Homo sapiens: one gene and its partners. The protein of the gene in region 4 interacts with the protein of the main gene of each other region in a pairwise test. Each region holds a gene or a part of one and is shown on either strand. Other genes may lie near its edges.

What was found.
Region 1: the proteins of SAMD4B (region 4) and CCDC179 interact in binary tests that used the Homo sapiens proteins (3 or more experiments, as listed by UniProt).
Region 2: the proteins of SAMD4B (region 4) and BCL2L10 interact in binary tests that used the Homo sapiens proteins (3 or more experiments, as listed by UniProt).
Region 3: the proteins of SAMD4B (region 4) and RSRC2 interact in binary tests that used the Homo sapiens proteins (3 or more experiments, as listed by UniProt).

The regions. Positions count from the first base shown.
Region 1 is NC_000011.10:22,857,462-22,865,392, forward strand, and holds the start of CCDC179 (coiled-coil domain-containing protein 179), read right to left. Parts: upstream 3,014-7,931; 5' UTR 2,961-3,013; coding exon 2,916-2,960; intron 2,036-2,915; coding exon 1,991-2,035; intron 566-1,990; coding exon 461-565; intron 1-460.
Region 2 is NC_000015.10:52,109,769-52,116,949, forward strand, and holds the start of BCL2L10 (bcl-2-like protein 10), read right to left. Parts: upstream 3,008-7,181; 5' UTR 2,959-3,007; coding exon 2,470-2,958; coding exon of another isoform or gene 2,400-2,469; intron 206-2,399; coding exon 80-205; coding exon of another isoform or gene 39-79; 3' UTR 1-38. UniProt on the Homo sapiens protein: Promotes cell survival by suppressing apoptosis induced by BAX but not BAK. Increases binding of AHCYL1/IRBIT to ITPR1. Reduces ITPR1-mediated calcium release from the endoplasmic reticulum cooperatively with AHCYL1/IRBIT under normal cellular conditions.
Region 3 is NC_000012.12:122,516,932-122,523,954, forward strand, and holds part of RSRC2 (arginine/serine-rich coiled-coil protein 2), read right to left. Parts: intron 5,369-7,023; coding exon 5,212-5,368; intron 4,502-5,211; exon of another isoform or gene 4,498-4,501; coding exon 4,454-4,497; intron 3,651-4,453; exon of another isoform or gene 3,581-3,650; coding exon of another isoform or gene 3,573-3,580; intron 2,121-3,572; coding exon of another isoform or gene 2,099-2,120; coding exon 1,908-2,098; intron 500-1,907; coding exon 296-499; intron 1-295.
Region 4 is NC_000019.10:39,338,061-39,345,420, forward strand, and holds the start of SAMD4B (protein Smaug homolog 2), read left to right. Parts: upstream 1-4,360; 5' UTR 4,361-4,516; intron 4,517-6,064; exon of another isoform or gene 6,065-7,360.

The DNA of each region.
Region 1 (7,931 bases), on a different chromosome or scaffold from region 4:
ATGATAATGATAATAATCTGGACACTGACACCTTTCAGTAACATTAACTCGCTATGGATCATAAACCTAAATGTAACATACACAACTGCAAAACTTCTAGGAGATAATACATAAGAGAACTAATGTGACCTTAAATTTGGCAATAAATTTTCAGATATATAGCCAAAAGATTTAAGTGATTAACCTTATGTAGTCATCTAACATATGGCAAAACAAGAAGTGGAGTCCAGAACAACCTGGTTTCAAAGATAATCCTCTTTTCATTAAACCATATCACCTCCAGGAGATGACAGCAGAGGATATTTAAATAATAGATGAGATAAGACTTTTAAGACTGAAATTAGAAATTTCTCAAAGAGAAAGGGAAAAAGAAAATTTATAGTGAATATTACATGAATTAAAATGATGATATCAGTTGCATTTAATGATCTGTTAATTTCAGTGAAACCTCTATACTTACTAGGAGTCCTGGTTCTGGAATAGGAGAAGGCCTTGAAAACCTTTTATTCAGTCTCCTCTTCTCTTTCTTTAGGTGTTGCATATTCTGAATACGTTTATTTGCAAGCTTTAGAAAAATTAAAATGAAAGAAAAATCATACTTTTTTGTAACATATAAAGGTAACATTCTGATTACATTTTTGGTTTGTGTCAATAAAAAAGGTAAACACCACCACTGCAAACGGTTCACATAACTACATAGAAATAGGGCGAAAAATCTCTTTCATTCAAATGTATGGTTCATAGGTGAAGAAAACCACATTGGAGCATCAGTAGGGTTTTCAAATAAGACTATTCTTGATTCTCATCTTACCACTGCATACACTTAAGTAGATCCAGACTCATGGATTAGTGTGCTTACTTTTGCTTTAAAAATAATGTTCATTAAGGACACCTAGGGAATTTTCTCTATAGAAATATGAAAACAATTATTCACTCCTTTGAAATGTTGCATGACACACATAGCTTTTTATGCCACCATTGTGTGGCGTCTACAAGTAGCAGATACCTAGGAGATCAAACTAGAATGCTTTTAAGATAATGAAATACAGTAATAGAATAGAAAGGATATGAATAACAATAACTTTTTTATCCACTTCCAGTGAAGTATCAATTGGTACAATTGCTTTGAAAACCAACTTTTTAAAAAATCCACTGATAACAGAATATAAACTTGAACAATTGCTTTGAAAACAGTGTGGCACTACTTTCTAACAATAAAAAATTTGCTTTTCCTATGATTCAACCATTACACTCCTGCCTAAATAATCAAATGGCATTCTTGTGCATGGGGCAAGAAGATGTGTACTAGAATGTTTGCAATAGTACTATTCATTTTAGGAAAATGTAAAAATAACACAATGTCCATAAACAAGAGAAAGGATTAATGAACTGTGATATGTTCCATGACAAAATATTGAACAGCAGTGAAAATAAAGAAACTATATACAGCAATGTAGATAAATCTTAGGAAATAATATTGAGAAAAAAGAGTAAATCATACACTAAATTTTGTGTGATCCTATGTTTATAAAGTTCAAAACCAAGCAAAAGCAAATAGTGCACTTATAGAGACACCTATGTAACAAACTATTAAAGAAGAGGAAGAGATTGATGTAGCTAAAATTCAAGATGGAGGTCACCTCTGGGAGAGACCTTAGGAGGTAGAATAGAAAAGCATTCCCTAGCTGGATTCAGAAATACCTAATATTTTAATCCTTAAATGGGAGGCATATTGTAATTTATAAATTATATCTGCCACATCTATTTTTGTATATGTGTCAAATGTTACATTAAAAAATAACATAAGCCATTTAGTTTACCCTAGTTAAGACCCATTCCAATAGTAGTCATTAGATCCCAGAGTCCCAAGAAATATACTGAAGTGTCTACTTAATACAAGTTCTATTATGTTAGGGACCACTACATAAAGGAACAAGTTACAAGCACAATGTTTAAACAACCAGAACCTAGTTCTTTATTTAAACATTACCTGCCGCTCAGTGACCTCTGAAGGATGATGTTGTCTTGGTCCTTCCTATATAATAAACAAAATTAAAACACATTCACACAAAAAAGTCATTAAAAACAGTAAATTAATTATTATAATAGGAAGCCTATGCTACTTTTAAATTTATGTATTATATGAATCATTTCAACTATAAGAAGCAGGTTAAAAAAACAAAAAGAAAAAAGTCAAGTTCAGAATAAAAACATCTAAGATAAAAATTGTGGTGGAAGATGGAGACGATATTATGATAAAAAAGAACCAGCTGTGAACCACCTTACAGATAAAAGGCAGAGTATAGAGATATATTCGGGAGGGAAAGAATGTACGAGAAATCGAAAAATGCATGTTTCTGCTTCTACAGGACTTCAGTGGTGCTATTGAGCAATCTAGTCTTCAATCTGGTTTCAAAGCCTAGGAGTAATTGGTGATGTGATTGAGATCGTATGGTTTTCTGAAGCACAGGGAGCTTGGCTGTTAGTTTTCGAGATTCTCACCACTTCCTCTATTTCTTGATTGTACCTTAAATAACTCCTCCTTCACTCGTTTTGATCCAATCTTTTAACCAGAAGACCCAAGAGCAATCTGTTCCACATCTGGCAATTGAGAACTTTATCCTGCTCCCTACTTCTGTAATTTCCACTCCACCTCCTAGGGCAGGCCAATGGGGCAGTCAACATACAGGTGATGTACCTGACCCCTAAGCACACAGTGGGTGGAGCTTTTTCTTGTTTCAGAGGGGTCCAGCAGTCAGGATGTAGTCTGTCTACATCACCTGGAATTTCCCAACCCCCAGCACCAAACCACATTTACAAGAGTTAGAAGCACCATGGCCAAGGCCACAGTGGCCTGGAGCTCAAGGCACAGGACAGAGTGGCAGAGTTGAGGTTGTAGGCCCCAGCAGACTCACAGGGTTGACTTGGGAAGGCTCGATGTCCCAGCAATACAGGCACATGCCGTGGAGCCTTAGGGCGCCCCCTGACGCCTACTGCCTGTCCTGGACCAAATGATTATGGGGCCCCACACCCACAGCCTTCAAGCCCTGCCCCACCCAGTTCCATCACTATTCTCTTTATTCTTCTCCCTGCTATGGGCCCCACCCTTTCCCCAGTTGTATTCCAGTCCAGTGCAGGGAAGGCAAGGCCTCAAGTTGTCTGCAGTGTCTTTGAGTTATGGAAGTCAGTTTACCATAATTCCTTATATCCTATCCTTCTTCCTCAGAAAATTGCAGAATACCAATTTCCCACCTTTTCTACCCTTCATCTCTCTAGTCTCTCTCTTTATAAAGCCCCTTTCATTTGTTAACATATCTAGCTTAGTCTCCATGTTCTCTTACTTCAGACTGTCTATCTATTGTTAGGGTTCTCAATTCCACCACCTCATTGTTGTTCCTTCACAGCTTCTAGTTGGGCTGACCCAACTGTCTGCCTTCTTCCCATCTATCTATACCAGATGAAGTGAGGAGAAGCTTGAAGATGGCTGGAATACATATTTGTGACCCCAGATCTATTTATTTATTTATTTTCTTTTTTCTTTTTTTTTTTGGCCAAGTCTCTCTGTCGCCCAGGCTGGAGTGCAGTGCTACAATCTTAGCTCACTGCTACCTCCACCTCACTGCTACCTACACCTCGAGGGTTCAAGCAATTCTCCCATCTCAGCCTCCCGAGTAGCTGGGACTGCAGGCGCATGCCACAATGCCTGGCTAATGATTTTGTAGTTTTAGTAGAGACAGGGTTTTACCATATTGGAGGCTGTTCTCAAACTCCTGACCTCAGGTGATCCACCCGTCTTGCCCTCCCAAAGTGCTGAAATTACAGGCGTGAGCCACCAGGCCCGGCCGTGACCCCCAATTTAAACTGGGTCCTCAAAGCTGCTTAAGACTTTTATGTTGCACCAGCTTTTTTTGTGCTCTGCAGTATTCCCTTCAAATTGTCTTCTATTAAAATCTCTGAATCCACCAACACTCAGGCACTTCCAGTAGAAGTGGGACAATCCGTGCTTCACACTCTGATGCTGGTGAACATGTATAGAGCTTACTATGCTCAGCACTGTTACATGAATTTATATGTGTTAACTGATCAAGTCTTTAGACCACTCAAGGTGGGTAAGGGCATGATTATAATCACTGGGAAACAAGGCGCTAGCATGTTAAATTGCTTTCTTGAAGTTACGCTATTAGTAAGAGGGTGAGCTGGAATTTAAATCCAGGGTTGGCCCTTAGATCATGTGCTCCTAATTATGTGCTATGCTACCATTGCTTTTGAAGCCCTCACTGGGGCTACCTCAATACCACCTAAAATCCTATAACCTTGTCAATATCCACATTATCCTTTTCCCTGTAACCCTGTCGAAATGGAAAAAAAAATTGGTATCCCTTCTGTTGCCTCAAATAAATCTATCCATTTGCATTTGCATGCCATTTCCCTCCTAGGAGCCTCCTCAGATCTAGCTCTACAGATTGTTCCTCTCCTTGTTAACTTCTCTATATTGCCTCTTTCCTTTAAACATTTCATTACTGTAAGTTCAAATCTCCCCCTCTCCAAACTAATAAAGGAAACTCCTTAGAACAACAACCAATTGTATCTATTGCCCATCCCCTCTATATAAAGTAAATATTCATGAGAGTGGTCTGTACCTCTGCCTCTTCTTTATGTTCAGTGTAAGATTTGGCTTACTGAAACCTGTTTCAACTCCCACTGTTCCACTGGTGCTTTTCTCAAAATGGTTAATCAAATGATCTTTCTCCTGAATTCAATGGACAGTTTCTATCATATGATTTTTGTATCACGTTAGAAACTGCTGAAAAGTCTTTCTGATGAGTTAGGCTTAGAAAAAGTAAACAGTTTTGCCCAACTGTAATGTTCAAAATCATTATCCATGCTCTTCTTGAAACTCCCCTCTGGGAGCAATAAGTTGTAGAAAAATCATATAAACTTCCCCATTATCACAAACCAGGAATTGACTTGACACACTATAGAAAATGTTTTGAATGCTACTGTCACATATCATGCCAAGTCCTATGCATACAAAATGAATAAATTATTGCCCTCAAAGGCAGTCAGATAGATTAGCAAAAACAAAAAGGTAGAAAATGTATAGTGAGCTTCAATAATAATACATGTTGTGTTGTACAGACATTTGGGAGCCCCTAATGCTCTCTGAAGACAGGCCCAAATAGCCTTCTCAGTGGAGTGGAGTAGCCAGAGTTTACCAGGTAGCTAAAGAGAGTGCATTTATGACAGAGGTGCAGCATGTCCAAATGGCAGTGTGTACAGATAAGTAACATGGGTTTGATGAATGTGTAACTGTTGTCATCACGTTTTACTCATCACATCTCTTTGCTTTTCCTCCTACCATATTTTGTATGGAAAAAAGTCAAAAGGGTTAGCAGGAATCAGGCACCATAAGGCTGCATAAAAGAATATTCCAGAGTCACATGTCTGAGACTTATTAGGAAGTTGGTAGTGCAACCCATAAGAGCCCAAATCCTATTGTAACTACTTGAAAACTCTTGTGACCCTGGCCAATTAATTATCATGCGTGATCCTCAATTACTTTCTCTGTATCTATAAAATGAGAATGATAATATCCAACAATATAGGGTTGTTATAATCATTATAAATAATATAAATAAGGAATTGGATCCAGTATCTGTTAGGTAGTGGTCATCGATCATGGTAGTTATGATTATATTTTACTATGGATTACATTGTAAGATTCTCCAAATGAAAAGAACCTTAGATATCATTCAGCCCAGTCTCCCACTGAATTGCCACTAAATGATGATATTGCCAAGGGGGTTACCGCTAAATGAAGACACTGCCTTCCCTTGGCAATATCTTCATTTAATGGCAATTCAGCTTGTTTTGATTAAATCAATGATGGAAAATTCAATCCAACCCATTCAATTTTTTGACACCTCTAATTATTGAAACTTTCTCACCTACATTGATTTGAAATATGTTACTCTATTATCCTAGTTATATTCTCAAAGTCCTCACTCAATAAATTCATTCTTTTCTACCTGATGACAGGGCTGGGGAAGAGGCTGGGATAGTCAGAGTTTGAAAGTTTGGAGGAGCAGCCCCATAAACTAGGAACCAGACCTCTGAGGAGGGGAACACTGCCAATCTGAGCTAGTGGATGGAGGGTAGTGGCGGAGGGAGGTGGCGGAGGGTAGTGGCGGAGGGAGGTGGGGGGTGGTCCTTCAGAGCTGGGGAATAGAGATTTCTTAGAAGCAGGCAGTATCTGGCAGGTGTTGGTATGATAAGGAAGAATGATAAAACCAATTCTGGGAATGTGGAAAGATCTTGGAAACTGGGAAGAACTGCTGCTAGAAACATTTGCTACTGCAAAGTCAAGTTTTATTGCTAGGATGGCAACATAATAAACAAACAAACAAATAAACAAACAAACAAGATCCTAACCCCTCCACTTGCCTTCCAGTCTCCTTCCAGTGCCACTTATTGGATACACCTTCCAGGACTCCAGTTGGCTAAATTTTCAGCTCTTTATCTCTAAAGAGAAATAAAATATGAACAGTTCCAACCCTGCCTTCACAAAGTAGAATATGAAAGAATGGATTTACATTTGAAAGACAACAGCTTAGTAAGTGGCACCAACCATCAGGTCCTAAACCACAAGCATTCCTTCAATGATACCTGTGTGATATAGTTTGAATATTTGTCTTCTCCAAATCTAGTGTTGAAATGTGACCCTCAGTGTTGGAGGTGGGGCCTAGTGAGGTGTTTTTGAGCCATGGGAGTGAATTCCTCAGGAATGGTTTGGTGCCCTCCTTGTGGTAATGAGTGAATTCTCATTCTATTAGTTACGGCAAGATCTGATGGTTAAAAAGAGCCCGGCACATCCTCCTCCTCTTGCTTCCTCTTCCATGTGACACAGCTGCTCCTCTGTCCCCCCCCCTTTTTTTTTTTTTTTTTTTTTGAGACGGAGTCTCACTCTGTTGCCAAGGCTGGAGTGCAGTGGTGCAATCTTGGCTCACTGCAAACTCCATCTCCTGGGTTCAAGTGATTCTCCTGCCTCAGCCTCCCGAGTAGCTGGGACACAGGTGCCCACCACCACACCAGGCTAATTCTTTGTATTTTTAGTAGAGACAGGGTTTCACCATGTTGGCCGGGATGTTCTCGGTCTCTTGACCTCGTGATCCGCCTGCCTTGGCCTCCCAAAATGCTGGGATTACAGGCGTGAACCACTACGCCTGGCCCCCCTTTTGTTTTATGCCATGATTTTAAGCTGAGGCCCTTGCCAGAAGCTGGCACATTGCTTCTTGAATATCCTGTAGAACTGTAACCTAAATAAACCTTTTTTCTTTATATATTACTCAGCCTCAGGTATTCCTCTATAGTATTGCAAAATGGATTAAAACATTCTTAGAATGGTTTCTATTCTCCCCACCTTCCATTGATAACCTTTATTATACTATAGTCAGCCAGTGTCCCACACAGGACAGAAATCTCAAAATTTTGATCAGGCCAAGTGTGATAGTTAACTTTATGAGTCAACTTGCCTGGGCCACAGAGTGCCCAGATAGTTGGTCAAACATTATTTGGAGTGTGGCTGTGAGGATGCTTTAAAATGTGATTGATATTTGAATCTGTAGGTTAAAGCAGAATGTCCTCCATATTATGGGGGAGTTTTATCCAATCAGCTGAAGTCCTGAATAGAAAGAAAGGGTGGCCCTCTTCCAATTAAGAGATAATTCTCCTGCTTGATGACTTTTGAACTGGAACACAAGCTCTTTCTGATTGTAAAGCAGCCTGCCTGCTTTCAGATTCAAACTGGAGCATAGGCTCTTTTGGACTTACCTCTGTCTCTGATTAGAGACATAAACAAATCCCTTAGGTAATAAATCCCTTTATATATAAAACAGGATACATATATATCTTTTAGTAGAATATATCCTATT
Region 2 (7,181 bases), on a different chromosome or scaffold from region 4:
CCTCAGTTCTTGTTCTCACACATCTGTCATTTAGTTGGTCACAGTTGGGCAGGTAGAAGCGGGTTAAAAGTTTTAAAACTCATAATAATCGTGTCCAGAGATAAATGAAGGCTGTTGTTAACAAGCATGACAGAAAAGCCTGGACCAGCTGTTTTCTCCAAAAAGCCAGTGGAAAGGGGGTCCTGAAGAAGTGACAAAAGCCATCCTACAGGGGGGAGAGAGAAAAGTTAGATTGCCTCATGATGCTGAGAACCTCACTCAAAACACGCAGGAACTTCCAGATTAAACAGCAAAGTAAAGTTTGGATTTAAAAAGTAAAAGGAAAGGAAATTCTGACCAATACACATCCAGTAATGAGGAGCCCCTGAGGAGTGAGGATTGGTAAGTCTAACAGAGTGAACAGAAGCAAGCATTTAACTTTGTCACTTGGTGCAGGAACACTCATATCTTGACTCAAAACCAAGAGGAAGGTAGCTTATTATGCTCTTTTCTGAGCAAAGAAGAGATGCCTTTTGGGAAACTGTCAAGTCACTAGATTGAAAAGTTATCACCTGACACTACAGCAAGCACCAACCCCATTTAGGAAGGGAATTGAACTCCAGGCTGTGGCATTTTAACTGCAATGGGCAGAGACAAGGGTGAACTATGTTTACCCAATTTGAGAATTTCAGCTTTTTTTTTTGAGACAGAGTTTCGCTCTTGGTGCCCAGGCTGGAGTGCAATGGCAAGATCTCAACTCACTGCAATCTCCACCTCCTGGGTTCAAGCGATTCTCCTGGCTCAGCCTCCCTAGTAGCTGGGATTACATGCACCTGCCACCGTGCTTGGCTAATTTTGTATTTTTAGTAGAGAGGGGGTTTCACCATGTTGGTCAGGCTAGTCTTGAACTCCTGGCCTCAGGTGATCCACCTGCCTTGGCCTCCCAAAGTGCTGGGATTACAGGTGCGAGCCACTGCACCCAGCCAAGAATTTCAGCTCCTTGGTGTTAAGAGATTATTCTTTCATCAACAGTGATTAGCCAAAAACAACAAAAAAAGGCTTCAACGGCCCCTTTCCAATTCTAATCTCTTCTTCAGGTACAGAGAGCCCGGAGGGGCCAGATGCCGTATTGAGACAGGGCTCAGGTGAGGCTCTTAGGCACGCAGCTGAAGGGAGTTCACCGGCCCAGAGGGTTGAAGACCAACACTAACATTATGAACAAGGCAGGAGTTCCTGCTAACACACCTCCCACTCCCTTTCCCTTCTCAGATAGAACCCAACTTGTCACTATAGAAAGTCTAAATGGGGGCCAGGTGAGGTGGCTCACGTCTGTAATCCCAGAACTTTGGGAGGCTGAGGTAGACAGATCACGAGATCAAGAGATCGAGATCTTGGCCAACATGGTGAAAGCCCATCTCTACTGAAAACACACACACACACACACACACACACACACACACACACACACACAGTTAGCCAGGCTTGGTGGGGCGCGCCTGTAGTCCCAGCTACTCCGGAGGCTGAGACAGGAGAATCCTTGAACCCGGGAGGCAGAGGTTGCAGTGAGCTGGGATCCACCACCGCACTCCAGCCTGGCCACAGAGCGAGACTCCGCCTCAAAGAAAAAAAGAAAAAGGTCTAAATGGAAACTGCCCCCAGGAGGCTACATTTCGGATCAAAAAACTTGCTGGTTTTAATAGTTTGGCTATAGGTATCCGATAACATGGGCCACTTCAGTCATTGAATCAACGCCAATAAGGTGGTGGGGAAAGAAATGGGGTCTAGCTCAGAGCCCCCAGAGGCATGCAGTGGGCTCATCACCAGGTGGCTTTCCTTGATCATCAGCTGCAGGGCAAGGGCCTGTCCCTCTAACCTTGACCACAGAGATGAAGGCTTGCAGCTGAAAGCCAGGGGCCTAGAACGTTCTCACCGAGGACTGGGTGCAGAGGACTAGAAATTAAGGAACCTTGGGTCAGCGCCACCACTGGGCGACCACCACACTCCACAACCTCTCTGGCCAGGCTGAGAGGCGTAGGGGGTTGTGATCAATGGGTCTGAGTCTCTCCAAAGGCGCATTTAATAGGCGAAGGAGAAAAACACCCCACCTGGCTGGGGCCCCGCCATTGCTGACTTCATTGGTTGGGGATTTCTATAGGAGCAAAACGTTCAGACCTAACGTGGGTGCCCCCCTAAAAGTCCCCGACGGCTAAGGCCAGGGCAAGGTCCAAGTGAGCAGACCTAAGCCTGCGCAGCTGCTTCGGAACGGTTCACGGCCGTCTAAGAAGGCCGATTTCTGCCGGCCTTTCTGCCAGGGGAGGAGAAACCCCAGACTTCACAGCGAACGTTCCAGGCCCGCTGAAACGAGCCTTTCTGCTTTCACGAAACCTCGTTCCAGGGGCCTGGCGCGGTGGGTTCCTCACCGTGCCAGCCTCGTGGGCGCTTCCCGGCTGCCCGTCCCGCCCCGTGTCCCGGTGTCCGCCGCGTGCTCACCCAGCCGCCCTGAGCCTGCAGCCAGGCGCGGTGCTGCCCCATGAGCCGCGAGCTCAGCAAGGCCACCAGGCGCTGGCAGTCCCGGGCGACGTCGCCCTCCTGCTCCTTTAGCCGCGGCTGGAAGCCCCACTTCTTCCACCGGGCGGTCACCAGCGGCCCTCTCTCCAGCAGCGTCCCTGCGAAGGTCACGAGCGTCACCACTCTGCCCCAGGTGGGGCCGGGGCTGTCGGAGAGCACGGAATCCGCCATCAGCGCCACCAGCTCGAAGCGGTTCCCGGGGTAGCCGAGGTAGGCGGAGAAAAAGGACCGGTGAATCTGCCGTAACCTGGCGGCCGCGGAGCGCAGCACGGCGGCCTCGGGCGTGGATGGCGCCGGCTCGGGGGTGCCGGGTTCCCGGGCGCAGTACCCCAGGTAGTCGGCCAGCAACAGCTCGGTGCGCTCCCGCAGCGGGTCGGCCATGGTGGTGCGCTCCCGCAACTGGTCAACCATGGTCCGGCCTCTGCTGGGGGGCCGGGCCTTCGCTGGTTTTCTTGGCCCGGCCGCGCCTCCCCCAGGGTAGGGCTGCCGTGCCCCGCCCCGGCCCCCGGCCCCCGGCCCCCGGTATATTGTTTTTCAGGACTGAGAGAAGAGCCTTTGATGGGAATCCCACCTGCACCTGTTCCAGTCCCCAAGGCAAGGCCTGGTGGTGCGCACGTGTTCGCGTAGCAATCAGATGCACTGTGAGACTCGGGTTATTTAGCTCCAGTGGCGCGATCTTGGTTCACTGCAAGCTCCGCCTCCCAGGTTCACACCGTTCTCCTGCCTCAGCCTCCCGAGTAGCTGGGACTACAGGCGCCCGCCACCATACCTGGCTAATTTTTTTGGATTGTTTAGTGGAAACGGGGTTTCACCGTGTTAGCCGGGATGGTCTCGATCTCCTGACCTCGTGATCCGCCCGCCTCTGCCTCCCAAAGTGCTGGGATTATAGGCGTGAGCCACCGCGCCCGGCCATCTAATATTTATATTAAACTTTCTCAGTTCATATTACTCCGTGGCTTCTTTCTCCTGATTGGATCCAGACTGATGCAGAATGGATACTAGCAGTGGTATTTCTGGGGGTTCAGGGGTCTGGAGCATGTTGAAATAGCCCTCCCAGGGTGAAAGATGAGTTGCTGCATCTTGCATCACTACAAAAGAGGCACGGCACTTGGCAGCTGTCTTAGTCTGTCCAGGCGGCTATAGCAGAATGCCATAGACTGGGTGACTTATAAATAAAGGCATTTATTTCTCACAGTTTTGTTGGCTAAAAAGTCCAAGGTTGAGGCCCTGGCAGGTTCTGTGTCTTGTAAGGACCTGCTTCCTGGTTCATAGACAACAGGCTTCTTGCTGTGTCCTCACATTGCAGTAGGTGTGGAGTAGCTTTCCGGGGTCTCTTTTATAAGGACAATAATCTCATTCGTGAGGGCTCCACCTTTGTGATCTAATACCTCCCAAAGGCCCCATCTCTGAATACCATCACACTGGGGGTTAGGATTTCAACATATGAATTTTGGGGGACACAGCCTGGAACAGTAAGCCATTTTGGACTTTGAAGGCAACATATACTGTGTTTGTGCTATTTCAACCCAATTGACAGGCTGGTGGATTGAGGAGCAGAATAAGAGAAGACTCTGCAGAAGGTTCAGGCTGCAGTAAAGCTGCCCTACCACTTGGGTCTTGTGATCCAACAGATCCAGTGGGACTTTGTCCAACAGGGATGCTGTATGGAGCCTCTGGCAAGCACTGACAGGAGAGAGTACAGACCTCTAGAATTCTAAAGTAAATCTAGAACCTCTTCTGAAGATAACTACTCTCCTTCTGAGAAGCAGGTTCTGCCTTGCTACTAGGCCTTGATAGAGGCAGAATGCCTGACCATGAAGCTTGAGCTCCCATCATGAACTGGATGTCATCTGACCTACGTAGCCATAAAATTGGATGTATACAGCAGCCACCTATCATCAAATGGAAATGGTGTATTAGAAACAGCCCAGGCAGGTTCAGAAGGTATAAGTAAATTGTATGAGCAGGCGGCTCAGACTCTTCCAACATCAACTCCTGTTGCTTTGCCTCCTCTCCCTCATTCTACAACTATGGCTTCTTGGGATGCTGCCTATGTCCAGTTGACTGAGGGAGAAAAACCTCCAGCCTGGATTATAGATGGGTCTGTATGATGTGCTGGTACCACATGAAAGAGAACAGCTGCAGTATTCACTCACACTCACTCAGGGGTGACTGTGAAGGGCAGTGGTGAAGGAGAATCCTTCCAGTGAGCAGAAACTCAAGGCTGTCCACTATGTCTGGAGTGAGAGATGGCCAGAATACAGACCTAAATTGATTCATGGACAGTCGCTGATGGTTTAGCTGGATGGTCAGGGCCTTAAAAAGAACAGGACTGGAAGATTGGTGACAAGAAAATCTTGGAAAGAGATATGTGGCTGAATCCCTCCGAATGGGCAGACTGAAGATATCTGCATCTCACCTGAATGCCCACCAAAGGGCATCCACTGCAGAGAAGACCCTGAATCAGATGGACAGAATTACATGCTCTGTGGCTGTCAGCCAGCCTCTCTATGCAGCTGCTGTGGTGTCTGCTCAACGGGCCGATGAACAAAGAGCTCTTGGCAGCAGGGACAGAGGATATGTATGGGTCCAACAACATGGAATTCTCCCTCCAAAGGCTGAGCTGGCTGGTGCTTCTGCTGAGTGCCTAATCTGCCAAAGCAAATGATTTCTTACAGTGAACTAAATAAGTGTTGTTAGAATATAAATTTCTGTACATCAAATTCCCATTTGAACTGGTTTTGACGTCTTACTGGTTTCCTTATTAATCAGTGAGTTAAAAGCTTGGATACATGTTCATGTTTTATTTGCAAGACAGTCATGATTTTACCTTTTTGTACATTAAACTTTAGCAGCAAGAACATTGTTTTCTCTTAGATTTGCAGTAGCTTTGGGGTAAATGATAAATCCTCTGGAACTGCCATTGGTAACTCAACAATGATGAAAAGAACTAAACAACAAATGAATAAATTAACCTCAACATAGAATTTCCAGTCCACACAATATGAGGCAGTTTGTAATAAGACTCGGTGAAAATCCTGTCTCTGCAACTTGGAAGCTGTGCAGCTATGGGCAAGTTATTCAACTCTCCTAACCTCAATCTCCCCATCTAAAAATGGGGCATCACGGGGCTGTCACAAGGATTACATGAATCGGTATATACAAAGTGCTTAGCACAGTACCTGGCACACAGTAAAAGGTTGTCACTCCACAGAAACTTTTATTTGTAAATGGTAAATCCTCTGGCAACGGTGACTATGCTCACTTGCCCCATTATCAGCCAAAACCAAAATGTGACAATATTGGTCTTACCTATGTGGTTTCTGTTTTATTGAGAATAGCTAGTGACTGCTTATTATTTTTTCCACGTTTTAAGTAACAGCTTTATTGAGATGTAATTCATATACCAAAAAATTCACCCTCTTACAGTCCAGTGGTTTTTAGTCTATTCACAGAATTGTGCAATCACCACCATCTAATTCAGTTCCCCCCGGAGAAACTCAGTGCCCACTAACCGTCACTCCTCACCCTAGCCCTAAGTGACCACCAATCTGCTTTTTGTCTTTATGAGTTTGCTTATTAGGACCTTTCATATACATGGAATCCTACAACATGTGGCTCTTTGTCTCTGGTTTCTTTCCCCTGGCACAATATTTTCAAGGTTCATCCATGTTGCAGCATGTGTCCACGCTTTCTTTCTTTGTATTCCATTCTGTGGATGCGCCATATTTTGTTCATCGATTCATCCACTGTGGAACATTGGGGCTGTTTCAGCTTTGGGCTATTATGAGTAATGCTGCTATGAACATTTGCATTCAAATTTCTGTGTGGACATATGTTTTAATTTCCCTTGGGGAGGCTGCCAATTACCGTGGAAAACACACAGGTTGGAAACAGTGACCTCTGCTTCATGGTTCCTGGTTTCTGACAAAGTTAATCTTTCACCATTGGTGTGCTGGTTAGATAACCTTGGGTTCAAAGACAGACATTTCCTGTTGTCACAGTCTTTACATAAACGCTCATACCATACTTACGATTAGTTGTTTATGTGGGTTAAATTAACCATGGAATCACTCCTGATCCCATCTCCTTACTAGAGGGTCTGCATCTTTTTTTCTGGTCCTATTTTTAAAAATAATGATCTTTAATTGACACATAATTGTATGTATTTATGGGGTACAGTGTGTTATTTTGATACATGTATACAATGTGTAATGATCAGGGTAATTAGCATATTAATCCCTTAAATGTCTATCATTTGTGTTGGGAATGTGAAAGTTGTTAGAATTCAAATAGAGTCACTAGTGTTTTAAAAAAACAAACCATGACAAATAGAGCTGGGGAGGCCATGAAGAGGGGATTCTCATGCTTGTATGCCTAATACCAAAAATGATCACAAAAGATTCTGCAAAAATTACAACCTTGCACATAGGCTGCTGCAACCTCACACAAAAATTACTTCTGCAAAGACATCTGCCTAGCAACTGCCTGTCCAACCTCGGACTGGTGTGACCTTTGTTATTGATATTTGTAGCCAAGGATAATTATTTCAAAACCATTATGTAATCCTCCTCATTTTTTCCTTTAAAAACCTTTGTTTTTCTTTTTTTTTTTCTTTGTTTTTTTGAGTCAGA
Region 3 (7,023 bases), on a different chromosome or scaffold from region 4:
ATCTGCTCGCCTCGTTGTGATTACAGGTGTAAACCACGACACCTAGCCAACAACTGCATTTTAATAGGCCTATTCATACCTGCACTTCGCAAGAGATTTATCAATCACGAGAATACCTGTGAATGCTATTCAAGTGGTTAGGTGTGTTCTTCATACGTTAGGTAATGACTAAAATAATTTTACCATAATCTATAAATAGAATTGTGACTCACAATTTTAATACTCTCTTACTGAGGAAGATAAACAGACTCTCTGAGGGTCCTATTAAATTTTATTCAGGATGATGGTCACCTACCGACTCCTACTCCTTGTCCTACTCCTGCTTCTAGTCCTATGCCTGTGTCTTGATCTTGAGCGGGAACGAGACCTGATCCGCCGTTTTCTTTCCCTGCTTCTGGATCTCGATTTCTTCCTCTCTCTGCTTCTGGATCTCGATTTCTTCCGCTCCCTACTCCTGGATCGAGACTTCTTCCGCTCCCTGCTTCTACTACGATGGCGTCTGAAATTAAAGTGCACAAATTTGTAATTACTTAAAAGTTGTGTTGTTTCATTTATACACATCATGAATTAGTTACTTGTAGTAACGCAATAAAGACAAGCAAGTAACTGCACTATATTATTTACAGAAATAAGCGAGATTTTCAAAGGAAATACTAACTGAAAACGAACCCTTCATTTTGTTTGATAATTTGTCCTAGAACATAGTAAACCTATTAACATGTCAAAAGCGTTCAATGCATCCTACCCAAATTTAAGCTTCCGTTTAATACTCTTCCCACAGTAGTTACAAATCTTAATACTTTAGTTTATCTACTAAAAATTTTTGAGTCTGATACCACACACAACCCACAGAATTCTCCAAAAAAAACCCCACCAAAAACCATTCACAAATTTGAGCTGTGATCCAGTTTCTCAAAAATCTTTTTATCTATACTCCAACATTAAAAAAAATCTAGATTGCAGTTTAGCAGCAAACACCAACATCACCATCGATGATGCAAAAGGACTGTTTATCAGCTTAAACCACACAGTTTAACAATATGATTTTTTCAGTGCCAGACAGATTAAGTGGTTAAAAATCTCAGCTGGGCAGAGTGACTCACTCCTGAAATCCCAGCACTTCAGGAGGCCAAGGCCGTCACACTGCTTGAGCCCAGGGATTCGTGAATAGCCTGCACAACATGGCCAAAACCCGTCTCTACAAAAAAATACTAAGAGATTAGCTGGGTGTGGTGGCGCATGTCTGTGGTCTCAGCTGCTTGGGAGGCTTGAGGTCAGATCACTTGAGCCCTGGAGGACAAGAGGCTGCAGTGTGCTGAGAGCACACCACTGCACTCTAGTTAGGGCAACAGAGAGACCATCTCAAAAAAGAAAATCTAGGCTGGGCACGGTGGCTCACACCTGTAATCCCAGCACTTTGGGAGGCCGAGGTAGGTGGATCACCTGAGGTCAGGAGTTCGAGACCAGCCTGGCCAACATGGCGAAACCTCATCTCTACTAAAAATACAAAAACTAGCCAGGCATGGTAGCACATGCCTGTAATCCCAGCTACTTGGGAGGCTGAGAAAGGAGAATCACTTGAACCCAGGAGGCAGAGGTTGCAGTGAGCCGAGATCATGCCACTGCACTCCAGCCTGGGCAACACAGCAAGACTCCGTGTCAAAAAAAAAAAAGGGAAAAGAAATCTAGGCACTTGAGATTTAGTCATCCCTTACACCCCATTCTTGGAAACCATTTTTGCATGATGAGAAAGCAAAGCCCAAAGGCAAAAAACAAACAAAACCACAAACCCAAACAAACGAACAAGAAAAACTCCCTAATTATGATTTTTTTGGGTGTTGCTGGGTCAATGAGAAACTTTATGTAACTTGTTAGAAGGTACTACATTATAATACAACATGACTTACCTTTCACGAGACCTAGATCTTGAGTGACTTCTGCCTCTTGATGACTTTCTTTCTTTGCGTTTGTGCCTGTCCTCACCATTTTCAGATGAATTTAGTCGCTCTCTTCCTTTATCAGAAGAATGTTCTTTGTCATTATGTTCCTCAGACTTATGTTTCTTAGAGGATTTATCTTTGGATTCATGTCTTCTTCCCTGTTTTAAGAAGAAGTTGGTTCTTTCAGGAAAATAGTGCAACAAAGAGAGTTAGTATGGGTATCAGTAGACAAAAATGTTGTGATGCAACATTAGTAACCTTAGGAGTGTGTGGCAAATAAAAAAAAGATCTAGTTTCACATCACCCAAATGTTGCAGATGTAATTACTATTTTTTTTACTATAAACACCCAAAATGTAGTTCCTCCCCAAAATATTTTCAATACAACAGAAACAATGATTTTTAAAGTTGAAATATTGAAAAGCCATTATGCCAGACAAAAGAGGAATCCCTTATGTTTATCTAAAAGAATACAGACCATGTATATACATCAACTTCTAAATCCAGATTACATAATGTTAAGTTTAAGTAAGTAATGGAGATAATGACACAAAAAGTGCACCAGAAACGCATTTCAATTAGGTAGCTAAATATAATTATTACTAAGTACTAATATTTTCTATAATTTCAAATTATTTTACACAGAGATGCAGTGTCCCTTTTACAGTTATACTGCCTGCTACATCCTCTAAAAGACAGCTCTTGATTTTCCTCCCAATGTCTAAACTGTGAAGCAATCACTTTTCATCTTGCAGTATCCCAATAGGCTTAGAGGAGTATTACACTTCATGTACCTAGGGTAGAAATGGCAACTGTATGTTTCAATTTTAAAGAAACCAAACTAGGTATAACAATCCACATGCCATCACACAATACATACTGCCCCCACACTTTAAAAAGACCAAGGCCTTCACATGTGCATTCAGAGACTCAGCTCAAATTAACTGCATGATCAAGTCTCATCCTACCAAATACCAAAGTAGAAGTGCTACATACTACAGTTCCCTACAGGAAGATCTGTCAAATTCATCTTGTAGTGAAAGTTTAAAATCCTAGACATCTCTGAATCACTAAATTTTAATTCTGGAAGGAAACTAAGATCCTCTAACTTAATCCCCTTATTTTATGTATAACTAAGATCTAAAGTTACAAAGCTACATGGGTGAGCTGAACCTTCCCCATGTTTTTCTGATGCCCACGCTACCACTTTTCCACTGTAATAAGACACTACTGTCTCCCAAAAGGCCATAGCATGTTTCTTTCCACTCACGATTAATGTTTCTTAAAAATAAAACTTGGCCAATCATTTTGGAACATGCATGATGATTTATCTGAAAATGATCATAGTACATAATTTATTATTTGCAGAAAAATAAGAGACCTGGAGACACAATTAAATTTTAGTTTCATTGCCAGTTCTCTATAGGAGCTTAGAAAAGAAATTTTCCTTGGTTTTGCTATAACGAGGCAGACTGGAAAAGTCTTAAGTGGTTAAACTTCTAAAGGTTTTAAAGTTTATTTCAAACCAGTTTTTCAAACATAACATTACTATTAATTTAAAAAAAACATTAAAACCCTTAACTGATTTAAGATATATTTAAGGGAAATAGGAGTTTGAATGACTAATAGTTACCTTATCATGAAGTAGGCTTATTATTTTGCTATCTGAGTCTGCAGCGTCTTCAGTTCAGTCTCTTCGCGCATAAGCACGCTGAGTATGATTTATTATAGAAATGTTATCATGTGAGCTAAACAAAATAGTCATTTTCACAAAAACTCTCCTAAATTAAAAATTTAACAGAGCTTCCATTACGGGAAGAGGTGAAGTCCCTGCCCACTCTTGTTTTAGGAGTCCCTTACCCAGCCCCCACAAGACTCTTCTCCCTTTCTGGCTACTACTTCTACACTTCCTTATTGGCTCATTCTTTGTCTTCTCAGGTGGGTGAACAAGTAACTCCTTTGCAATACAGCTGCTGCCTTTCTTTTTCCTCAAGTTTTGGTGTCACCGCCACCTTTTCAGCTGTCCCTCACTCAAACCTTTATTTCAAAATTCAATACTACTATTAGGGAAACTGAACTAGTTTGCAAAAGAAAAGAGAACTCCTGTTATCGTTCATAAGGAAAAAGCAGCGCACAGATATCTAGGGTATTGCTATGTAAAGATGATTGCTGTTTAAAAATCCTGAGCAACTGTCAGGCACCAGGAGACTCGGGACCTCAGATTAATGGAAGCTCTGTGTGACAGGCCTAAAAAAACCAATCATATTCTTCATATGAAATTTTTATTGTGAATATTTTCACAATATAATAAAATTAAAGTTTTGAAGGTACTTTTCACATAAACATCTTCTTCAAAAATGATGAATCAAAATCATGCTTATTTTATAACCCAATAAACCTTTTAAATTTCAAGTTTTGTACTTACCTTGACAACGTCTTATATTCATACAAATCTTTCTACCAGACACTTTATAAGTATTTTAAAGTACCTATTCACTACAAAGTGTTAATTACCTCTTTGCTTCTGCTCCGGCTCCTGTGTTTTCTTCCTTCATTATCTGTGAATACACAAAAAAAATAATCACCATAAACAAAGTTGGAGAAACATTTCATCTTAAAAAACTCTTAATGCTGGAGAAAAATGACTCCCATTAGTCTTCTTCCAATGACTAATTTTTTCATGGCACGGGTGGGATTATTCTACATTAATACAACACACATGTGAAACAAATCAAGCAATCTGAGCAAACCAGGACATAAAGCAGCCTAGATACATCTTTTAAACGGTCATAGACTTTCAGTATTTTACATATATTCTGACCAGCCCATCTAGTTTCCTAGTCTACAGCAAATTCATAAGGGGGTTTAATAGAGAGAGGTAAGCCATTAAGAAAAATAAAAACTAAAGAAAATAAACAGGTTGAATTATATTTGATATGTTCCAACATGGTGAAACCCAGTCTCTACTAAAAATACAAAAATAAGCTAGGCGTGGTGGCGCACGCCTATAATCCCAGCTACTCAGGAGGCTGAGGCAGAAGAACTGCCTGAACCCAGCAGATGGAGGTTGCATTGGGCTGAGAGTGTGTCAATTTTTGTATTTTTGGTCCTGGCTCAGGTGATCTGCCTGCCTTGGCCTCCCAAAGTGCTGGCATTACAGGCTTGAGCCACCATGCCCAGCCAACAAACTAAATGTATGTGTCTTCTTATACAACAGGTCTACATATCTTATACAAATGCTGAGAGTTGTAACCACCTTTAAGAATTCATACCTGACTTTCGTTTTCTTTCTCTTGACCTTGATCGTGATCTTGAATAATGATGTTTTGAAGCTCTAGGAGAAACAGATACTTCTGACTGCTCTTTTTTCTTATCTCTATCTGGTGATGTCTTTTCTGGGGCTAGTCCATCTCGCTCTGTATCACTAGCCTAAAAGTTTAAAAACAAATGATTAAAGTTCTTAATTACATTTTAAATGTTTTCAATTTCTTAAAAGAGGGACAAAGGGAGGGAAGATAGCCCCCCACAATCAATAAATCAGAATGCCTGCTTTCCAAGTAACTAAATGTGCTTTGTACACTAATAAGGCTGAATGGCTTGAAATGACGAACCTGATACTAAAGCAAGACCTACATATTTAGACTGATGTATCTTTAATTTTCTAACGATGATTTGTATAACTTTTAAAACATGGGGTGGGGTGGGGGAGGAATAAGGGCTCCAAGTAGTTCTAATAAGCATTCAAGCAGAGAAAATAGTCCTTTTTAGATGTGTGAATGCATTTAGCTGACTTTACCAATACTTTTAAATTAGCATACATGTCAAACATCAAAAATGAGTTGTTAAAGCTTAAAGATACTCAAGACGATAAAATCTTAAAACAATGCCCTAAGAATATTATAAAATAATAAACAGAAAATTAACTTACCTAAGTGAGAACCTCATCTTAATGTCATTAACCCTCTTTAATGAAAACAGCCCCTTGGCACAGTGCTGCTGCAAAATATGGTCTGCCTCTCCTCACATGTGCTCTGGGCTATGAAAACATTAAGTTGTTTCTGCTTTAAAGCATTTTATAAGTAATTATTACAATATAAATTTTACAAGTTTCAACTAATGCAGAAGGTAGACAATGCTCGGCTATCTGACCAGAGAAGATAACATGAAAATAAAATAATTGATACACCTGGGGAATTGATTACTTAGGAAGGGTTGGCAAGCTATGGTCCTCATTCTGTTTCTGTATGGCCTTGAGCTAGGAATGGTTTTTTACGTTTTTTAAAACTATTTTAGGCATATTTAATAAATAACTTCAGTAAATAGCACTGTAAAGACTGAACTGTTAAAACTAAAGGCACTTAAAACGCCAGTGTTGTGGCTCATGCCTGTAATCCTAGCACTTTGGGAGGTTGAGGCAGGCGGATAACCTGAGGTCAGGAGTTTGAGACCAGCCTAGCCAACATGGTAAAACCCTGCTTCTACTAAAAACACAAAAATTAGCCAAGAGTGGTGGGGCGTGCCTGTAATCCCAGCAACTCAGGAGGTTGAGACAGGAGAATGGCTTGAACCCATGAGGCAGACGTTGAAGTGAGCTAAGATTGCGCCACTGCCCCTCCAGCCTGGGAAAGAATGTGACAGAGACTGCACATGGCCCACAAAGCCAAAAATATTTACCGTCTGGCCCTTTACAGAAACAGTTTATGGACTTTTCACGTATAACATCAAACGGAATCTGGATTGAATAAATAGGGAATCGATAGTCTTCAGCAGGAGGAATCACATTAGAGAACTTCCTCCTTTAGGAAAGTTAGTCCAGAAAATGAATACCAAATATCAAGTACAATAAATGGGGGTATTGTATTTTAACAAATTTTAAACAAGTATCAAGTACAATAAATGGGTGTATTGTACTTTAATAAATGAAGTTGTGAGAGGTCGAGTTACTTCAACAAGTATTTACTAAGGGTCAAAAATGTGCCAAAACCAATGCTAGACTTAGGGAATAAAATGATAAATTAAAAACAGAAAGGTTTTGCAGTTCAATTATGAGATGAAAGACATAAATTACGTGTTATTCCTCTAAC
Region 4 (7,360 bases):
AGGCGGGTGGATCACGAGGTCAGGAGATCGAGACCATCCTGGCTAACAAGGTGAAACCCCGTCTCTACTAAAAATACAAAAAATTAGCCGGGCGTGGTGGCAGGTGCCTGTAGTCCCAGTTACTCAGGAGGATGAGGCAGGAGAATGGCGTGAACCCAGGAGGCGGAGCTTGCAGTGAGCCAAGATTGCGCCACTGCACTCTAGCCTGGGTGACAGAGTGAGACTCCTTCTCAAAAAAAAAAAAAAGATTTCTCAAAAGAATAATCTACATTGCTGCCTCCAATTTCTCCTCCCAGTTTTCTCTTCTGCCTTCTCCAATCAGCCTTTCACCTGTATTCCTCTCAGCTGACATGCCCTTGTCAAGGTCACCCATGCACTCCACGGTGCTGGATCTAATGGTCAATTCTCACTCCTCCTCAGCCACATCTGACACAGCCCATCACTCCCTGTTCCCTGAAACATCGTCTTCATGACACCACACTTGCCTGGTTTTCTTTTTTTCTTTTCTTTTTTTTTTTTTTTGAGACAGGGGTCTCGCTCTGTCACCCAGGCTGGAGTACAGTGGCACCATCTCAGCTCACCGCAACCTCCGCCTCCTGGGTTCAAGCGATTCTCTCACTTCAGCCTCCCAAGTAGCTGGGATTACAGGCGTGAGCCACCACACCCGGCTAATTTTTTTTTTTTTTTCTTGAGATGGAGTGTCTCTCTGTCACCCAGGCTGGAGTGCAGTGGCACAATCTCGGCTCACTGCAACCTCCACCTCCCAGGTTCAAGCAGTTCTCCTGCCTCAGCCTCATGAGTAGCTGGGATTACAGGTGTGCGCCACCACAACCAGCTAATTTTTGTATTTCTAGTAGAGACGGGGTTTCACCATGTTGGTCAGGCTAGTCTCGAACTCCTGACCTCGTGATCAGCCCACCTCAGCTTCCCAAAGTGCTGGGATTACAGGTGTGAGCCACCGCGCCTAGCCATATTTTTGTATTTTTAGTAGAGACAGGGTTTTACCATGTTGGCCAGGCTGGTCTCAAACCCTCCCATGGGCCAGACACAGTGGCTCATGCCTGTAATCCCAGCACTTTGGGAGGCCAAGGCAGGAGAATTGCTTGAGACCAGGAGTTCAAGACCAGCCTGGGCAACATAGCAAGACCTTGTCTCTACAAAAAAATTTTAAAAGTAGCCGGGCATGGTGGCATGTGTCTGTAATCCCAGGTACCAGCTACTTGGGAGGCTGAGGTTGGGAGGATCACTTGAGCCCAGGAGTTTGAGGCTGCAGTGAGCTAGGATCACACCACTGCACTCCAGCCCAGGTGACAGAGTAAGATCCTATCTCTAAAAACCAAACAGCAGGCCAGGCGCAGTGGCTCACGCCTGTAATCCCAACACTTTGGGAGGCCGAGGCAGGCAGATCACTTGAGTCCAGGAGTTCAAGACCAGCCTGGGCAACATGGTGAAACCCCATCTCTACTAAAAATACAAAACTTAGCCAGGTTTGATGGCATACGGCTGTAGTTCCAGCTACTCCAGAGGCTGAGGCAGGAGAATCACTTGAACCCAGGAGGCAGGGGTTGCAGTGAGCCGAGGTTGCAGTGAGCCGCGATCGCACCACTACAATCCAGTCTGGGCAACAGAGTGAGACCCTGCCCCCCCCCCCCACACACACACACACACACACACACACACACACCAACAATGACTAAAATACTAAGTTATCTGTCACCACCCCTACCCCATTGCCTCTTGGACCTTGTCCTTCACTGCCCTCTTTTGCTCACTCCACTCCAGCAATGCTGGCCCCTTTGTGGTTCTGTGAATGATCCTACTACATGGCCTTTGCACTTGCTGTTTTCTCTTTCTGGAACCCACTTTCTCCTTCATTCCTTCAGATTTCTGTTTCAGTCTCACCTAATGAAAGAGGCCTTTCCCCATGTAAATTAATTCTGGCTGCATTACTCCATTCCCTTAGCTGCTTTCTTGTTATTTATTTGTTTATTTATTTAGAGACATAGTCTCGCTCTGTCACCTGGGCTAGAGTGCAATGGCAAATCTCGGCTTATTGCAACCTCCGACTCCTGGGTTCAAGTGATTCTCCTGCCTCACCCTCCTGAGTAGCTGGAACTACAGGCACGCATCACTATGCCCAGTTAATTTTTGGCATTTTTAGTAGAGACAGGGTTTTGCCACTTTGGCCAGGCTGGTCTCAAACTCCTGGCCTCAAGTGATCCACCAGCCTCAGCCTCCCAAAGTGCTGGGATTACAGGCATGAGTCACCATGCCCAGCCACTGCTTTCTTTTTCTCCTTGGTACTTATCACGAAGTTACACTGTATTTCCTTATTGTTTGTGTCCCCAAGAACTAGAATGTAAGTCTTTTTGTTTTTTTTTTGTTTTTTTTTTGAGACGGAGTTTCACTGTTGTTGCCCAGGCTGGAGTGCAATGGCACGATCTTGGCTCACTGCAACCTCCGCCACCCGGGTTCAAGCGATTCTCTTGCCTCAGCCTCCCAAGTAGCTGGGACTACAGGCATGTGCCACCACGCCCCGCTAATTTTGTATTTTTAGTAGAGATGGGATTTCACCATGTTGGTCAGGCTGGTCTCGAACACCTGCCTCGGCCTCCCAAAATGCTGGGATTACAGGTGTGAGCCACCGCGCTCATCCTATTGTTGTGTTTCTAGCACCTTAAGCAGAGCCTGGCACATATTAGATAGTCAAGAAATATTATTGAATGAATTAATGAACCAGCAGTTAATGAGCACAATAATTCTATGCAGTGTGAAGGCTGTTGCTTAAATGCAGGAGGTAGTGGATGGGGTTTGTGACATGGCCCCACCCTGGTGAAACAGCCTTTCCTCAAAGCGTCTATAATGCCACACTCTCCTGGTTTTCCTCTCTCTGGCTGCCTTTTGCAATATTCATCGACAGCGTCAATTCCTTTGCTCAAATCCTGCCTCTCTGTTTCAGGGTTCTGTTCAGTCCCTGTCTCCAGTGACCCTTCATACCCTCCCCGGGCTAGACCCCTAACTCCCACAGCCTCAATTACCATCTTTGACGATCCTTAAATCTTGGTCTCCAGCCTCAATTTCTCCCTTAAGCTCCAGACCCAGGGTTTGTGCACCTCCTGGACCTCGCTACTAGGCATCCACATTGGGCTTAGTATCTTCCCAACCTGCTTCTGGCGCCCAGTCTCCCGGCTAGAGGGGCCTGGTCCTAAACTTTTCTCCCCCTTCCACTCCATAGCCAGCCAGTGTCAGGGCCCGTTCGCTCTGCCTCCAGGGCGTCCCTCCCACCTGCACCTCCTTCCCTCCCCACAGTCCCTCCCTCGTGCAAACCCCCTCTTTCTTCCCCACCCCCTCCCCCAGCTGCCTCCCTGGACTCCCGATCCCGTTTCATTCCCTCCAATCCGCCCTCCATGTATAAGCCAGAGAGACATCTCTCCAAAACCCCAGACTCACCATGATCCTCCCCGGCTTGAAGCCCTTCACGGCTCCCTAGTGCCCTCGGGACAAGTCCAAACTCCCTCAAGTGGCCAAACAACTGGCCTCTGCTCGTTCCTCACCCCTCCCTGTCTTCAACTCGACCCTCCATCCCGACTGCCTCTCTAAGTGCCTGTAACAAGCCAGATCTCTGTCACCGAGAGCCTTCTGAACACAGGTCCCTCTGATTAGTTCACCCGGACCCAATACAGTTTGTGGAACGCACAGATCACAACCAAAGTCACAGCAACAACTCCCGTTTATTGACAGCCTCCTTGATCCTTAGCGCTTTCTGTGCATTCTCTTCCCACCCTAAAGGCTAGATCTCGCCTCGCCATTCCCATCGGAGAGAGCAAGCGGCAAGGCTGAGAACAGCGCGATGAGAAAGCCGAGCGCCCAGAAGCCCGAGTGCAGACGCCCACTGAGGACAGCCTTGGGTGAGGCGGGCCACCCAAGGGGCGGGGAAGAGGAGGCCTGGAACGCCTGAATCAGGAACTGTGACTTCGCTCGGGGCAGCTGGGGTGGACGCGCGCGAGCCTGCCCCCTGCGGGCCTGGAGGCCCAACCTCAGACTCCGCCGGGCCCGTTGCCCTGGGCAACGCCCCGCGCGCCCCGCCCCTTCCCCGCCCCCCAGCCCCAAACCCCAGGCCTGGCCGACTGCCCGTCACCCCCACGTCCGACCAATCCCGCCGAGGAGGGGGCGGGCCTCTTGGGCCCCGTTCCACCACCGTCGCTCCCCCCTCGCCGCGACCCCGCCTTACTCGGCTCACACCTCCCGCCCTTCGGGCTGCCCTCGCCGCCCGTTGGCTGGCGCGCCGTTCGTCACCCGGGCGTGAGCTAATGCCGGCGCGCGGCGGCCCCCGTCGGGGCGGGGCCAGGGGCGGTGACGCACGGCGCGGTGACGCAGCGCGACGGCGGCGGCGGCGGCGGCGGCGGTGGTCGGTGCGGGAGGAGGGAGGGGAGCTTGCGGGCCCGAGAGGGGGCGACGGCGGCGGCGGTGGCCTGAGGAGGCCCGAGCGGCGGCGGTGGCGGCGAAGGCCGAGGCGGTGAGTCTCGGGCCGGGCCGGCGCGGGGCGGCGGCGAGTCGGGGCGCGCGGGGCTCCCCTCAGGGCGACCCAGGCCGCGCGGGCGGCCCCGCCCCCTCAGGGACCCCGAACCGCGGGCGGCGGCGGCGGGCGGGTGCGGAACGCGGGCCTCGGGGGGCCGGGCCCCACGGGAGAAGCCCCGCGCCCGTCCCCAGTCTCCCTCCTGGGCCCTGGCCGAAGCTTCCCTCCGAAATCTTTCTCATGCCCTCGGGATTGCCGAGGGGCCGGGCCGGGGGCCTCTCCTCAGGACCCCCCGCACATCCCCCTCGGAGAGCCCCGGAAAGCCTGCCGATCCCCCGTGTGCGCCCTGAAAGGTCCCCGCAAAACCCACCCCTCCCGTGGAGTCGCCTCCTCGAGCCCTTCATGGGTCCCAGCAGCTTTCCTCGCAGACCCCCGCCCTTTGGCCCCGAAGCCCCCGTCCTCCTCCTGTCTCCAGAAATAGTCCTCGGAGGCCACTCCTCGTCCATTCCACAGCGTGGCTCTCATAGCTGCTCCAGGAGCCTCCCTCACGAGCCCTGCACACCTCCCCAAGGCTCCCTCCGGACCCCTGTCCATTCCAGAACTCTCCCCCGGAGCCCTGCCTCTCACAGCCCAACAGGCTCACCCGACTTCCCCCTCCCGGATCCTAAGAATTTTCCCTCCCACTTACCCCATTCCAGAAACCTCCTTGGAGATTTTCCGCTCATACCCCCTGCATTTCTGATTCCCCCTCCCAGAAGTCCTTCAGAATGCCCCCGACGGACCGTGATCATCTTCCCTGAAGATCTCCTTCCCATATCCCCAAAATAAATCTTCCTCACAGACTTTGTGAAATGCCCCCAGATCCCAAAAACTCACCTAGAAGACTCCATCCCCCTCCCCACCGTATTGCAACCATCTCTCATACACACTCCCCCTTCACGTATCCCTCTGGACCTTTCCACAGATCCCAAAAGTCTCCCCCAGAGGCCTCCTGTCTCCCCCTGGTCTCACCACCCTAAAATGCCCTAGAGATCACCCTCATGTAGCCCAGTGATCTTCACCGGGATCCCCTTCCCCACCCCCACTCATTCTAAAAATCTCCAGCAATTGCCTGAAATCTCCAGAGGACTCTCAGCATCATATTCCAAAAGCTTCTTCCAAAATCCCTTTTACATACTCCACATCTTTTCCAGTCCCCCACATCACACGCTCCAAAAATTGTTTAAGGATCCTGAAAACTTTCCTCATGGTTTTTCTCTCAGATCCCGTAGAACTCCCCTTCACTAACACCTCAGAATCCCCCCTTGCAGACCGGTTTTAGAGGAATTTTCTGAAGATCCTCCTCACAACCCCTGTAAGACCGTAAGATTCTCTTGGTGACCCCTCTGATATGCAGGTTTTCAGGACCCCCCCCCCCCACACACACACACAGCTTAGAGACCCCAGCGACCCCCTGGAGCCCTCCTGACGTATGTTCTTGAAATCCCTCCAAGACCTTCCTGACACCACCAGAACCCCTTGAATCAATACTTCTGCCTTACTAAGGGACTTTTCTAGAGATATCCCTCCCTGAACTTGCTCACACAGGTCCCCTAAATCCTCTAGAATCCCTTGAAGAAGACCCTCACACACACCTAATTTTCCCCCAAAATAACCCGAGCTCTTGCTCTGAGAAAGTCCTATAATTCTTTCTGAAAAACCCTCTCCTCTGACACTCTCTCAGAAGACCCCGCCTTCCCCATATACTCTTTTGGAGACTTTACTCAGCTTTCTCCTCAACTGAGATCTCTGAAGAGTTTTTCCTAAAAACATCCCTCTGTCATCCCACTCCAGGACCAGTCTCAGAAGACCACACCTTCCTCAGACACTTTTTAGAGAATTTTCTCCCAAATTGCCCTCCATCAGCCACCCACTCCCAGCGCTTCCTGAGACTTCCTCAGAACTTTCCCTCAGATTCCACTTCTGACATCCCCAAGAAACATTATTTAGGACCCTATCAGATTTACCCACTAACTTTAGAATTGCTATTTACACCCTCTCATTTCCCCATTCTCTTTCCTCTGAAGTCAACTCAGAGACCTTTCTCAGGGGGCCCCCTTTTCCCATTATCCCTTCAGAGGTCCCCAACATTCTCCAGACTCGTTGCCCAAGAGCCTCTATGTTTCCTTGTAAAGATTCTTGAGAGACACCTTTCCCCGCCCCCTTGAAATCCCAGTGCTCCGAGATCTTTCTTTCAGACCATTTTTCTTAGGTGCCATGCTCATAGACCCCTCTTCCCTTCAGAGATCAAGAGACCCTTAACACCCTCCTTAGAGACTTAGGATTCTCCCCATTTCCCTTTCAGAAGCCTTCTTCCTTCTCCCCTTTGAGGACCTCCTCACCAAATAATCCCTTCCCCTATAGCAGTGGTTCTCAGTGTGGTTCCTGGCCCAGCAGCAGCCACATTTGTTAGAAATACACATTCTTGAATCCCACTCAGATCTACTGAAACTGAAAACCTGGGAGCAGGGCCCAGCAATCAAGAGTTTTTAACAAACCCTCCTGGTCATTTTGATGCACACGCAAGTTTGAGAACCTGTGCCCTTTAGGAGGATTTCCTTTTCCTCACTAAAAGCCCCCTGAAAGATGCCTCAGGGTATGCCTCTGTGCCCTACTGCCCACTGCTGCTTTCCTGTTTCCTAGGAATCCCCTTTATGAAGTACCCATCCTCCAGAAAGATTTCTTACCTACCTTGAAAGGATCTTGGCTTCTCCACAAGGTTACTCCATCCTCTGAGCAGTTATTTCCGATTCTACTTTTGAATGGTTTCTTTTCAGATCTTCCTCAGTGCTTTCTCTTTCTGGC